2 linked regions of the Homo sapiens genome follow. The protein of the gene in region 2 interacts with the protein of the main gene of each other region in a pairwise test. Each region holds a gene or a part of one and is shown on either strand. Other genes may lie near its edges.

What was found. The genes of interacting proteins can lie anywhere in the genome.
Region 1: the proteins of KRTAP10-10 (region 2) and CSNK1G3 interact in binary tests that used the Homo sapiens proteins (3 or more experiments, as listed by UniProt).

Annotation. Positions count from the first base shown.
Region 1 is NC_000005.10:123,508,365-123,515,176, reverse strand, and holds the start of CSNK1G3 (casein kinase I isoform gamma-3), read right to left. Parts: upstream 3,001-6,812; 5' UTR 2,607-3,000; intron 2,060-2,606; exon of another isoform or gene 629-2,059; intron 1-628. UniProt on the Homo sapiens protein: Serine/threonine-protein kinase. Casein kinases are operationally defined by their preferential utilization of acidic proteins such as caseins as substrates. It can phosphorylate a large number of proteins. Participates in Wnt signaling.
Region 2 is NC_000021.9:44,631,767-44,639,449, reverse strand, and holds KRTAP10-10 (keratin-associated protein 10-10), read right to left. Parts: upstream 2,095-7,683; 5' UTR 2,033-2,094; coding exon 1,277-2,032; 3' UTR 995-1,276; downstream 1-994. UniProt on the Homo sapiens protein: In the hair cortex, hair keratin intermediate filaments are embedded in an interfilamentous matrix, consisting of hair keratin-associated proteins (KRTAP), which are essential for the formation of a rigid and resistant hair shaft through their extensive disulfide bond cross-linking with abundant cysteine residues of hair keratins.

The sequences.
Region 1 (6,812 bases), on a different chromosome or scaffold from region 2:
GCTTCTCATTTCTTCCTGAGTCACATTTTTACAGTCTGGATTGATTTCATGTATAACCAATTACTAGATTACCAGACACACCCATATTTAAATGCAAATAAAGAAATTTAACGAAACTATATATAGATTGTTTTGGATTATATACTTTTCTGCTTTCCTTCAGTAGTGCCAATGATAGAAAATTGACTATTTTATTATAACTTGTTTCCTTAAACTTACTATCGTTATTTGCCTACCTACTGTCAGCCTACGATCTGTACATTTGGACCTTCATGCCTCAAACTGACTCATCTTTAAATACAAGCTGAACTTCCATGGCCTGATCTCCACCTACTTTCATAGCTTCTCCCACAAAGACCTCCTGGCAAAACAGCCTTATGTCCAGTTCAACAAGCCCTATAACACAATCACATGCCTTTCCTCAGGCTGTTCCCTTCACCGAGAAAACTACCCCCACCATCACCCCCTCAGTCCCCATTTTGCCTATTAAACTATGTTAAGGCCCAGATGGAGTGTTACCAGCTCTACATCCATTCAAAATTTCCCAGTCAAAAATTAGTATCTCACACACACACACCCCATGCTTCCAATACACCTCCAACAAAACCCACAGGAATCTGTGAATTACCTCTGTGTATGTCTGCTTCTCCCTTGAAGGCAGTACTGAGTCTCATTCATCTTCATATTCTACCCACTGTTCCATCCTTGCCACAGAGTAAAGGTGGTCCTGGTTGAATTAAACTATTCCTTGATTCCACTAATTCCAGTCCTTTATTTTCAAGGAAGTAATAAATGCCTTTCATGTACTGAAGATTTTGTTAATATATTGTAAATGCTTGCTAAATCTAATGATGAAAATGTCAATAATTACATAACACACTAATGTTTAAGCTGATGAATGGCAGAAGGGGGTGGATGACTATAATAAATCATCAGTAAAGACAATCGTTTCTCAAGATCCCCAAAAAAATGTCATTCATAACAACATTAAAATTAACCTTTCTGTCTCCCATTTCAATAATTACTTCTATTTAATGCATATTCAGAAATGCCAGTTCACATAAAGCAGAAGTGTCTGTACATTCTGCTAAGAATGTATGTCAAAGCCACACAATGTATTTGATAACATCTTTCTTCCAATGTCCATAAAGGTAATTTTTATCTTTTATCTTTTGTGCAACTATAAAGGTTAACTATACAAAAGAATAAGACAATTTATCCTAAGATACAACTGGAGCAAAGTTTGTAAATAATTACAAAATACACTAAGTACAGCTCAAAAAAAAAGAAAGCTATTAATGTCACACACCAGATCTGATTTTTTTGGTGAAAAATATTTTCTTAAACTAGTTTCACATCTAATTCCACATTATTCTCACAATTTCTGTAATGTTTTTCTTCTAAATTTACCGGGAAAGCCAATATTCTTCAAAGAAACATCTTTAAAAAGAAACATCTTTAAAAAGTATATACTTTTCATTTTATATCCCATCTTAGATATAGTTTGCCATCTCTCATATCTGTGGCCAAATGTCATTTGAATCGGACTAAGTAATTGCAAAAAGTAAAATAATGACTTATTTTCTTAATTCATTAAAAATAAGTACATTTTTAATTCTCTAATTTAAAGTAAATATTTTAATAGAAGATTTAAAAGGAGCCACTGACCAGCCTGGGTGCTTACTACAAAAGAGTTGAAAGTAATTCACACAGTGTATCAACAGTAGCTGTCTCCCACACACACAGGCACACTCACTCTCTCCCCCATCTGAACTTTTCCTCCCTAAAACATGAGGTGGGAGAAGGGGAATGACCATGACACAGGCCTCACTACCCCCACCCCACGAGTAGACACACATCTCCCTCCTCATCCTGCTGAAAAGAAATGTGGAGGCTGTGGACCAAGAGACCCGATGCTTCTCAGTGTCACTTCCCCTGCATGTGGGATAAACAAACAAACCGGCACCATGAGAGTAACCATCAGAGTGATTTTGCTAACCTTTGACTAATGTCTTGGTTAAGTTTTGAGCTGAGTCAAAGCTCTAAGAAACAGGTAAATCCCTGTGTCCCCCCACCCAACCCCTTAAACACTCCAACGGGAAGTTTATCCCTGAGCTGAACGCTGGCCCCCGTCGCCTCCTCCCAGCCTATCCATGCCTCCTTCCTGCCTGAAGCCCCTACTCCAAAGGTAATTGTCTGGACACAGTCAAGGAGCACCGTGGGCGACACTCCCCACCTCCCAATCTCTCCTAAGGAAGCCCCCGCCGGCCCAGTTGGCCCACCTCCCTCGCCGCCCCAGTCGCGCCGCACCACTCCGGCAACTTTTGCACCCAGCCCGACCCGCCACCCGCGGCCCCCGCTGCCCCCTAGCCCTCCGCGCCCTCAGCCTCCGACCGCGGCCCCCTCCTGCCCACGCCTCCGGGCCACCCGCCATGGTCCTCGCCCACCCCTCCCCCGACACCCGCGCCTGCGGCGCCGCCCCCGCCGCACCCCACCCCACCCGCCCGGGACCCCAGCCCCACCCGGGAGGGAGGGCGCCGCGGCCGCGCCGAGGCAGCCGCCGGGCCGGGGCTGGCAGCGGAGCACCTACGCGCAGGGGGCTTTACCTCAAAGGCGCGGCCGCGAGCAGAGGGGTCGGTCCCGGGCGCGGGCGGCGCCCCCAGTCCGTCAGCGCCGGCGGGGGCAGCGGCGGCGGCACATCACACCCGCCGGCGGCCGGAGGAGGAAAGCGAGCCACGCAGGGAGCGAGCGAGCGAGCGAGCGAGGTAGGGGGGAAGGAGCGAGAGAGAGAGGTAACGCAGCGCTGCTCGGATTCGGTCCCTGCACTGCCGCTGGTGCCTCCTACCGCCGCCGCTGGCCGGAGAGTCGCCGCCCGAGCCTCTGCTGTCGCCACCGATGCAGCCCGGAATGAATGCACAGCAGCGCCTCGCTTATCCGGAGGTCAAACATCCTTCTGCCTCGGGCATCCGGATCGACGCCGGACCCGGAAGTGAACACATGGAAAAAAAATTAAAAAGGAAAGCGTCTGTTTAGCGGCGGCGGCCCCCAAGCTGCCCGCATCAGCGAAAACAGCCGAGTAGAGCCGAAGATTGCACCAACCTTCTTGGATTGGTCGGATCGCCGACCGGAAAGGAGACGGCGCGGTCATTGGCTGGCAAGGTGTATAAAGCCTAAGCCGCGCCCTATCCCCGTCTTTCTAGAGCCGTGCGTGAGGGAAAGTGGGGAGAGGCTGTGGATACGAGTGTTTCTCTGGATGAAGCAGTGGGCGGAGAAGCATAGCAAAGTCTACGCAGAGAACTGGAAGAGAACACCACCATGCTTTAGGAGAGCTACTAAGAACTGAGTGAGCAAAGAGCCTTAAGGGTACCATTGTGCCAAGTCAGGGTGCTGAGGCTTTCCCTGTTGTGCTCAGCCCGCCAGGTTCCAAAAAAATCTTAGGGCCCGGCCTAGGAGTATGACATCACTGGGTTGACATTTTTCCCCGCTTGTTTGTAACCCCAGTGCCATATCAGGGCTCCAACTGCTTAGAAATGTGAATTATGGCTCACATTTGCGTCTCATTTGCTGTTTGTAAGCTGAGGTAATCCTCTGAACTATATAGTGTGGCATTACCTGTTTTTCAAATTCACCTCCCAAAGTTCTGAGAAGCCAAACATCACCCAAGTTATCAAGTTGCAGCGCACAAACTGAAATCGGTGTTTCTGACTCACACTTAAGTCCACTCTGCCTACATAGAAAGACTGCATTCCTTTCATTTTCCCTCTTGCAGTTGCTTCCCTGGGATGGAGATAAGTCATTTTGGTAGACTTCTATGGAAATTGATCCACCATGAAGGCATGGAAACTATAATTTTTTAAAATTGTGATTCTTATGTCTCAAGTCCTTTCAAAAGTTAGGCATTAAGGTGTGCAGGAAGAAGAATCAGCCTGGTGCCATGTTTTTTAAATGTTCATTTTATCAAACCCGTTTATATTCTTAATATACTTACTGTATCAAGAAACTTGAGTCTTGTGTATCTCTATCTCTCCTGTCTACCTCTCAAAACGAAAAGACTAATGAAACAAATGCACTCCTTCATTTTCCTCCCTGCTTTGCTAGATTAACGGTATAGCTAATGTGTTACCTTTGGAAGGGTAGTTAGTATAGAAATCTGTTTTTGATTTTGGTTTGTAATACAACAGTGCCTTTTTTTTAAACCTCTCTTCTCACTTCTTCCCCAAACTGGAAGTTAAGAAGTGACTAGCATCACCAGCCTTAGAAGGGTAGTGATAAGAGCTTTGCTCCATGCTTACCACACCATCATTCTGTAGGAGACTCAAAAGCAGCTAAGATGTATGCATGCTCAGAATTGTGAATGACTTGCCTAGGGCAGATGACATATCCCAGAATTTCTGATCTCTCCCAGGACCCACTAATAGACAAGAAACAAAGTTAACAACATCTCACTCAATAGAAGAGAAGTGTCTGCAACACAGGAAACTCTAAATATTGTCCTCAACTCCCAACAAACCATTTTATTCTCTCTACCTCAAAAAACTCAGTTTTGATAAAGAACACCCACTCTTCTAAGTTTTCATAAATGGTTGAGAAAGTCAAGTGTATAAATATATGATCAAAACACATTTTTAAATTAAAAATGGGCTGGTCTAAGTACGGTGGTACTTACAACGAATTGCTCACAACCAGTTACAGATTTCTTTGTTCCTTCTCCACTCCCACTGTTTCACTTGACTAGTATTTATTAAATTATATTAGAAACGTATGGGAATAAATGTTTACATTTTTAACACTGCAGGGAAGACTTTTGGTTAAAATTTGGCCTATAAGCTCCTATAGATTAAAATTGGCAAAGCCTGGTGTAGTGGTGAATGCCTGTAGTCCCAGGAACTTGGGAGGCTTGAGGCAGGAGGATCTCCCAGTAGTCTAAGGCTAGCCTGGGCCACATAGTAGGATCTTTTCTCAAAACAAAAAAAAAAAAAAAAAAAGCAAGTAACCTAGGTAGGAGGCAATTAAATTTTCAGGTCATTCTATTAACTTATAAGAAAAATTGGTTTGGGAGGCCGAGGCAGGTGGTTCACCTGAAGTCAGGAGTTCAAGACCAGCCTGGCCAATGTGGCAAAACCGCATCTCTACTAAAAATACAAAAATTAGCCAGGTGTGGTGGTGTGCACCTGTAATCCCAGCTACTCTCGAGGCTGAGGCAGGAGAATCGCTTGAATCTGGGAGGCGGAGGTTGCAGTAAGTGGAGATAGCGCCACTCCACTCTAGCCTGGGCGACAGAGTGAGACTAAGTCTAAAAAAAAAAAAAAAAAGTATGTATATATATGAAAAATTGGCAATGTGAAAACAGCTTATATTAATGAAGGAAAAGCCAATACACAGGCATTGCAAGCAAAACTCTTTATCTTATAGCATGATGCTCCAACCTAAGCAGCCAGATTATACTTGTCAATCTGCTATATTACAAATCAAATAGTTTATTTGTTGTGTCACCTCACATTTCCTGGCATTGCCACTCTTCAGGTATTTATATTCTATTAATATTTTCATTATGATTATTGCATAAATTCATGTGATACTGTTGTCACAAGTTTTGTAGTACATTGGAAACTTGCATTTATCAAATTCTCTTTTCACAAAAGCTTTCTCTACATGTCCTGCAGATGCTTTGTGTGAGACAGAGAATGGTATGTAGAGTTTGTGGAATGTAAAGCTGGCCATTTTTTCTCCTTTGTAAGCAGTAAAACTTAAAGTTGAAGAAAGATGGAAATGAAACAGTTTGATTATGGTTTTAAGCAGGAAATTATGAGACTAAGATATTTACTAAGACTTTTCAAAATAAAAACAGATAAAACATTCATTTCCTTCTTTCAAATATTTTGTTTAACTGTAATGGTAAACCTGGCATGGTGATTAACTGGTTGCCAGAATAAGGCCTGAGGCATCACCAAATTATACTTAATTCTTTATTTTTTAACATTATTTTAAAGGAAAAGTACCTGGAAGAAAGATGTAATTAGGAAGAAGTAAACAATGAAGTAGAACGGGGAAGGATGCAAAATGGAGAACTGTAACAATAGCCAGGGGCTGGGAGTAGAGCAACATATTTTACTACGATGAAGAGGAAAATAATTTCTTCCCCCCGTCAAGCCTACAGTCAAGGGGAGAGACAAGAAGGATTGTGGGAGAAAGCCAGTCACATACAACAGCTAGATCAGGTTTTGGGGAAGCTATCGCTTAGCAACCTTTATTTTAGACTGTTACATGAGTACAGCTCGAAAAAGTCAAGACACTGTTTTATACCATCCTTAGAAGGATGATTTGAAGTATTTGGTAGGTGGTAAAATAAATGTACAATAATCACAAAACTTTTCTGAGAGGCTTTATTACATGTTATAATGTTGATCTTCAGAAATGTTTAATAAAATCACATTTCCAGGATTCCTTGTCTTAGCTCGGGTTGCCATAACAAAGTATTGCAGACTGAGTAGCTTAAGCAATACAAATTCATTTTCTCACAGTTCTGGAAGCTGGAAGTCTGAGATCAGGATGTCAGCATGGTCAAAGTCTGGTGAGATCTTTCTTCCTGACTTTCAGATTGGCACCTTCTCCCTGTGTCCTCACATGGCCTTTCCTCAATGTGTGGGCATGGAGAAAGAGGGTGATCTCTCTCTCTTCTTCATCTTAATCCTACAGAAGTCCCCACCTTTATGACCTCATCTAACCCTATTACCTGCCAAAGGCCCTACAAATTCCATCACATTTGGGGTTGGGGATTCAGCATATGAACTTTGGGGAGACAAAATTCAGTT
Region 2 (7,683 bases):
GAGGCGGCTGTGCTGACCACAGGGAGCTCTGTGGGGTGGGACTCCGGGAGGTCCTGGTGCTGGGGCTGGCGGCCTCTGTCATTGACACGCAAGGGTCATTTGCTGGAGCCGGACGTGCGCTCTCAAATGCGCACAGCGACCTGGCGGAAAGAGTGCAGCAGCTTGTGCCACTTCCCCGACGTGGCATCTGGGACGGAGGGTGGCAGGCAGAGCTGAGGGCTATTTGGGAGAGACCTGGGAGGCTGGGGGTGCGGGGACAGGGTCCTCGGGGTCAGAGTCCAGGACCACGGGACCAAAAGGGAGCCAGGACCCTGAATGTCTAGGTGAGGCCGCATGGGGCAGGGGGGCCCGCAGGCTTGGTTAGTGGGTGCCATGGTCCCTGCCCATCTGTGCTCTCGCCAGCGATGCCTGAGCAATGGGTATTCCAGAACCCCATGAATACTGGGCTGCTGGGCTCGAGTCCTGGGGGAGGGCGTGGTCCCAATGTCTTACTGTGGAGGAGATGAGGGCTGCAGGGATGAGCACTGTGGTCCATAGCTGGTCTCCCCAGGGGTAACAGGAGGGGTGAGGCTGCTGGGTGGAGCCAGGCCCCAGGTGGTCTACCCCAGGCCTGGGGGGCAGCCATGGAGCTGGGGAGGGTGAATGTGGCTCAGGGGCCCAGAGTGCTGCCAGGGTCCACTTTGTCCCGAAACTCCTGGCCTTGGTTCCAGAGGCAGCTTTCCTAAGATGGGCCGGGGGGCCACGTGCTGGGGTTGGGGGCCCACGGGGCTAAGAGGGAGACTGGCCTTCAGGGTTCACAGAGGCCAGCACCAGAAGGCATTGCTTCCTGCCTCATCCCATGCCCCTCGGGGGTCCACAGACAGGATGGAAGGTCGACAGAGACAGAGGGGTGGAGCCAGGCCTGCTGGGGGTCAGGACTCTCCCTGCAGTCAGGGGTGGCATCACTTCCCACCTCACCCTGTGCCCCCCCGGGGGTCCACAGACAGGACAGAGGTTGGTGTGAGACAGAGGCGGCTTTATTAGAACTAGAGGGGGTGCTGCCCAGGGTGGAACCAGGCCTGCTGGGGGTTAGTTCTGCAGAACTTGGGTCTGGGGGAGTAGCTGGGGTCCCACAGGCAGCCATCATCTGGGAAGGACTGGGGGAGCATCCTGGTCCCCAAGACAAAGAGCCTGCCCCACCTTCTGAGGGTGTCAAAGCCAGAGAGGGCAGAGCTTGCTGGGGCAGCTGGGAGGTCAGCCCCTGGTGGGAAGGGACTCCGGATCACATCCAGGGCTGTCAGCAGCTGGACTTCTGGCCAGAGCAGAGGCTGTAGCAGGCAGGGCGGGAGCACACGGGGCGGCAGAGGAGGGAAACACAGGAGGCCGTGCGGCAGCAGCTGGGCTGGCAGGAGGAGGCAGAGGCACCGCAGGAGGGGACGGGCACGCAGCAGGTGGACTTGCACACAGGGTGGCAGAGGAGGGACACGGAGGAGGAGGGTCTGCAGCAGGAGGCGGTGCAGCAAGCAGGCTGGCAGCTAGACTGCTGGCAGCATGAAGTGGAAGCCCCAGAGCACACAGGCACATAGCAGACGGACTTAGAGCAGACAGGCACACAGCAGGCCTGCTGGCATGGGGAGGAGGTGCAGCAAGTTGGCTGGCAGCTAGACTGCTGGCAGCATGAAGGGGAAGACTCGGAGCAGGTAGGCACGAAGCACACAGGCTTGTTACAGACGGGCACGCAGCAGACGGGCACACAGCAGACAGGCACACAGCAGGCCTGCTGGCAGGGGGAGGAGGTGCAGCAATCCGGCTGGCAGCTAGACTGCTGGTAGCATGGGGTTGTGCAGGAGCTGGTGTAGCCTGATTGGCAGGCGCTGGGCTCACAGGCCGTCTGGCAGCAGGGGCTGGACACACAGCTCACTGGGGTGCAGACCAGGGTCAAGCTGGGGGCTGGGGCACAGCAGCAGGGCTCGCAGCAGCTCTCTGGGCAGTCGACTACCCGCCAAGAGTCAGTGCAGGCGCTGGAGCAGATGGACATGGTGGAGGCGGCCATGCTGGAGTGGGGAGGCGGTGAGCTGGGGGAGGTGTGTGAGTGAGTGAGTGTGTGAGTGAGTGTGTGTGTGAGCCTGTCAGCTGCTGGGGCTTTTATATGCCCAGGGCCTGTGTTTTCCCAGCAGGAGACTCAGCAATGCCCTCCCCTTCCGTGTTGGTGTTTGGAGCCGGGAGGACCCTCATTATTTCTGCTTCCTTTGCCATGACTTGTCCTCACTCTGCTCCTAACACTTGGCTGGTCCTGGGCAGGACCGGCGCCCCTGGCTGAGCCTGTCTCCCGGGAACACCAGGAGGGAAGGTGTGACCTCTCTGGGGCTGACCTGGTGACTTCCACCTGGCAGGTCCCGTGACTGTGCCCAGCGTGGGCCCTCAGCCTGGGGGAGGCCCAGCCTCTGTCTGCAGGGACCTCACGGGGTGGGCTGGCGTGGCTGAGATTGGGAGAGCCAGGACGGAGGTGCCTGTGTTGGGAAAAGATGCTTGAAGACAGCGCTTCCTGGCGGGCTCTGGGATCTTCTGAGATCCTGATGTCTGCCAAGGGCAGGAGGACAGGGAGGACCTCCCCTCCTCTGAGGAGATGGAATGTTCTGGCAAGGCCTCTGGACAGTCAGCTCATTAGGAGGACAAGGTTTGGGGACTGGCCTTTGGGTCTGGACTGCCATCCCCTGGAGCCCTGGTCAGGTGTCCTGAGAGGGGCGGGTGCAGGTCAGGGTCTGAGGGTGGGGAGGGGCCTCTACCTTGGAGAGGCAGGTGTGGAGTGAGGGTTGCGTGGAGAGTGGAGGATACTTGGGGTCTGGATGAGAAAAGTGTCAGATGGGGCCACAGTCAGCCCCACTGCCCGGACGCCTGGTCTTACTCTATGTTTGCACTTTGGCTGAAGCCACATGCCAAGAAGTTGAAATGTGATGTGAATTTCTAGTATCTGTAGGTGACATCATTGTCCACCTAGGATCAGAGTGACTGTCCCAGGCCACGCTCACTGAAGGGCTGGATGAGAGACAAAGTCACTGCACCCAGCACCCCCTACCTGTACCCCTGCCATGACAGTGTGGAAATACAATGGGAAAGGAAGCCCGTCAGCCAGCAGACCCAAGTATAAAATGCCCAGTGGAATGTCAGAGGGTCAGATGTGAACGAAAGCATAAACCTTGACCAGAACACATACAACGTATGTCCCCTGGAAACCCGGCAGGGTTGGGTGCTGGAGACCGGTCCACATGCCTCAGCTCAGCTCAGCATCCACGACGTTCCCATCACAGCCCTGAAGGAATCATTGGGTACACAAATGAAGATATGAACTGCCAGAAAGTACTTGTAATCTCCATGACAGGTGGAAGATTAATGTGAAAAATTTGAAGTCCTTACCACTAAAACAGGATAAGATACAAAAGAAATGAATAGAAGACTAAAAATTTTAAATTTCCAATAAGCATGAATGAGATGAACAGCTAGTTGATCTCATTAATAACTAAAGTTTCTCAGGTTTAAACACACGTCTCCCACCTGTAAGAGCAAACAAGATTTAAAATGCTGATAATATCCAGCATTGCAGAGCGAGGGGCTTCATTCTTAGAAACCCTTGGCAGGTGTAATTTTATTTAAATTGTGATCAACCATAAAATAAAATGTACCATTTTACCCATTTTAAAGTGTGCAATTCAGTGACAGTACAGTCATAATGTTGTGCAACCATCCCCACTACCTAGTTCCAGAATACTATCATCGCTCCCGAAGGAACCCCGGTACTATTAAGCAGCCATGCCCAGCCCCTGGCAACCAATACTATTCTGCTTGTCTCTATGGATTTGCCTGTTCTGCACATTTCATATAGACGCAGTCATGGAATATGTGGTCTTTGTGTCTAGCTTTGTTCACTCAGCATGTTTTCAAGGTACACCTGTGTTTGGGTATGTTTCAGAACGCCATTCCTTTTCTTGGCTGAATCATATTCCATCAAAGGGACACGCCACATTTCATTTATCCATTCATCTGCTAATGCACTTTTGGGTTCTTTTCAACTTTTGGCTAGTGTGAATAGTGCTTCTATAAACATTCTTTTTTTTTTTTTTTTTTTTTGAGACAGAGTCTCCCTCTGTCACCCAGGCTGGAGTGCAGTGGCCCCATCTCGGCTCACTGCAACCTCCACCTCCCGGGTACAAGTGATTCTCCTGCCTCAGCCTCCCAAGTAGCTGGGATTACAGGTGCGCACCACCACACCCAGCTAATTTTTTATATTTTTGGTAGAGACGGGGTTTCACCATGTTGGCCAGGCTGGTCTTGAACTCCTGACCTCAAGTGATCCTCCCGCCTCGGCCTCCCAAAGTGCTGGGATTACAGGCATGAGCCACTGCGCCCGGCCCTATAAACATTCTTGTACATGTTTCTGTTTGAACACCTCTTTTTAATTCTGTTGGGTATATACCTAGGAGTGGGAACTGATGAGTTGTATGGAATTCCATGTTTACATTTTGAGGACGTGCCAGACTGTTTTTCACAGCATCTGTACCATTTTATATTCTCACTAGCAATGTACAAACATTCCAGTTTCTCTTCATCCTTGTCAACATCTGCTACCTTCTATTTGTTGGTGTATGTGTGTGTTAAATTATAGCCATCTTGGTGGGTATGAAGTATCAACAGCATGTCATTGTGGTGTGGATTTCTGTTTCCCTAATGACCAATAACATTGAGCTTCTTTTCCTGCGTGTATCATCCATTTGCATATCCTCCTTGGAGAAATGTCTATTAAAGGACTTTGCCTATTTTTAAATTGGGTTGACTTTTTGTTGTTGAATTATAAGAGTTCTTTATATATTCTGGGTGTTAGATCCTTATCAGAATTATGATTTACAAGCATGTTCTTCCCTTGTGTGGGTTGTTTTACTCTCTTGATAGTGTCCTTTGATGCACAAAACTTTTTAATTTTGATGACATCCAATTTATCTATTTTTTCCTTTTGTTGCTTATGCTTCTGGTGTCATATCTAAAAAACCATTGCCCAAAATAAGGTCATACATATTTACTCTTATGTTTCCTTCTAAGAATTTTATGGCTTTATCTCATATATGTAGGGCTTTGATCCATTTTTAGTTAATTTGTTGGTGTGAGATGTAGTGCAACTTTATGATTTTGTGTGTAGATATCCAGTTGTCCTAGCACCATTAAAACAGAGACAGGGTATTGCTCAGCCTGTTGCCCAGGCTGGAGTGCAGTGGCACAATCATAACTCATTGCAGCCTCAAACTCCTGGACTTAAGTGATCCTCCCACCTCAGTTTCCCAGGTAGCTGGGACTACAGGTGCACACCACTATATTTGGCTAATGAAAAAACATATTTTTTTAGGGACCAGGGTCTTACTCTGTTACCCAGGCTGGTCTCGAACTCTTGGCCTTAAACAATCCTCTCATCTCAACCTCCTGAGTAGTTGGGATTACAGGCATAAGCCATCATTTTATAGCATTTGTGTACCTAACATCAGTTATAAACATTCATGTACCTAACAAACATCAGACCCCCAAGATATATCAAGCATAAATGGAAAGAAGAGAAGAAAGAAATAGGCAATTCCAGTTCAACAATAATGTTTGAAGACTTCAATAAGTCACTTCCACTGATTAAAAAAAATTTTTAAATAGAACTAGATCAAAGATCAATAACGAAATAGAGAACTTGAAGAACACTATAAACAAGCTAGATCTAATATGGCCGTGTATAAAACATTCAACCCAACAACAGCAGAATACAAATTCTTCTCAGTTCTCCAGATTAGACCATATGTTAGTCCAAAAAACAAGTCTCAATAAATTTAAAATTATTGAAATCATATAATGTATCTTCTCTGACCACAGTGGGAATTAGAAATCAATAACAGAAGGAAAACTGGAAAATTCACAAATATGTGGCAATTAAACAACACATACTTATAACAACCAGTTGATTGAAGAATAAATCAAAAGAGAAGTTAGAAAATACTATGGGATAAATGACAGTGACAATATAACAAACCAAAACTTATGGGATACGGCAAAACAGTTTATGGAGGGAAATTTGTAGCTATAAATGCTTATATTAAAAAACAAGAAAGATCTCAATTCAGTAATCTAACTTCACACCTTAAGGAACCAGGAAAAGGAAGAGCAAACTAAACCAAAACCTAGAAGAAGGAAGAAAATAAAGATTATATGTAGAATACAGGGAGCAAATAAAGAAATTGAGAATAGAAAAACAATGGAACCAACGAAGCCTAAAATTAGTTTTTTGAAAGCAACAATAAAATTTACAAACCTTTAACTAGACTGAGAAAAAAGAGAAGGCTCTAATTATTAAAATCAGAAATGAAAGTGGGAACATTACTGCTGACCTATATAGATAAAAAAGACTATAAGAGAATATATGAACAATTGTACACTAACACATAAAATCAATAAAATTTATTCCATTTAAGCATGTTTAGTGATATTAAATACATTCATAATGTAGATAACCTAGATGTAATGGATAAATTCCTATTAACATACAAACTACCAAAACTGATACCTTTATTAGTGTTCTTTATTTCTTTTCTTCTTTTTCTTTTTGAGATGGAGTCTTGCACTGCCACCCAGGCTGGAGAGCAGTGGCACGATCTTGGCTCACTGCAACCTCTGCCTCCCAGGTTCAAGTGATTCTCCTTGCCTCAGCCTCCCAACTAGCTGGGATTACAGGTGCCCACCACCACACTCAGCTATTTTTTTTTGTGTGTGTATTTTTAGCAGAGATGGAGTTTCACTATGTTGGCCAGGCTGGTCTCAAACCCTTGACCTTCTGATCTGCCCGCCTCAGCCTCCCAAAGTGCTGGGATTACAGGCGTGAGCCACTGTGCCCAGCCAGTTCTTTATTTCTTAATATGGCTTCAAGTTATTGTCTAGTGCCCTTTGATTTCATCCTGAGCTGTCATTTCTTGTAGGGCAGGCCTACTGGCAATAAACTCTCTCAGCATTTATTTATCCAGAAGTGTCCTAATTTCTCCTTTAGTTTCAAAGAATCATTTCATTGGACACAGACTTCTTGGTGGACAGTTTTTTTCTCTTTCAGCACTTTAAGTACATCATCCCATTGCCTTCTGTTCTTCATGGTTTTTGAAGAGAAATTGGCTGTTAATCTTCTCTCTTCCTGCTTTCAAGATTCTTGTTTTGTCTTTGGCTTTCAATAATTTAATTTTGTGTTTCTGTGTGGATCTTTTTGAGTTTATTCTACTTGAAGCTCATGGAGCTTCTTGAATGTGTAGATTCAATGTGTTTCATCATATTTGGGAAGTTTTTGGTCATTATTACTTCAAATATTTAAAAAATTATTGTAGTTAAATACACGTGAAATTTATCCCATTTTAAGTGTACCGTTCAGTGATATTAAATACATTCATAATGCAGTGCGGTCATTGCCACCATCCGTCTTCAAAACTTTTCATCTTGGAAAACTGAAACTCTGTCCCCATTAAACACTAACTCCACATTCCTCCTCCTCCCCCCAGGCACCTGGCAACCACCATTTTACTTTCTGTCTCTATCATTTTTCTTCAAATAGTTTTGAGTGCTCCATTCTCTCTCTGCTCTTCTTCTGACACTGCTGTTAAGTGTGCTGTTGGTATGTTTGATGTTGTCCTACAGGCCAGTTAA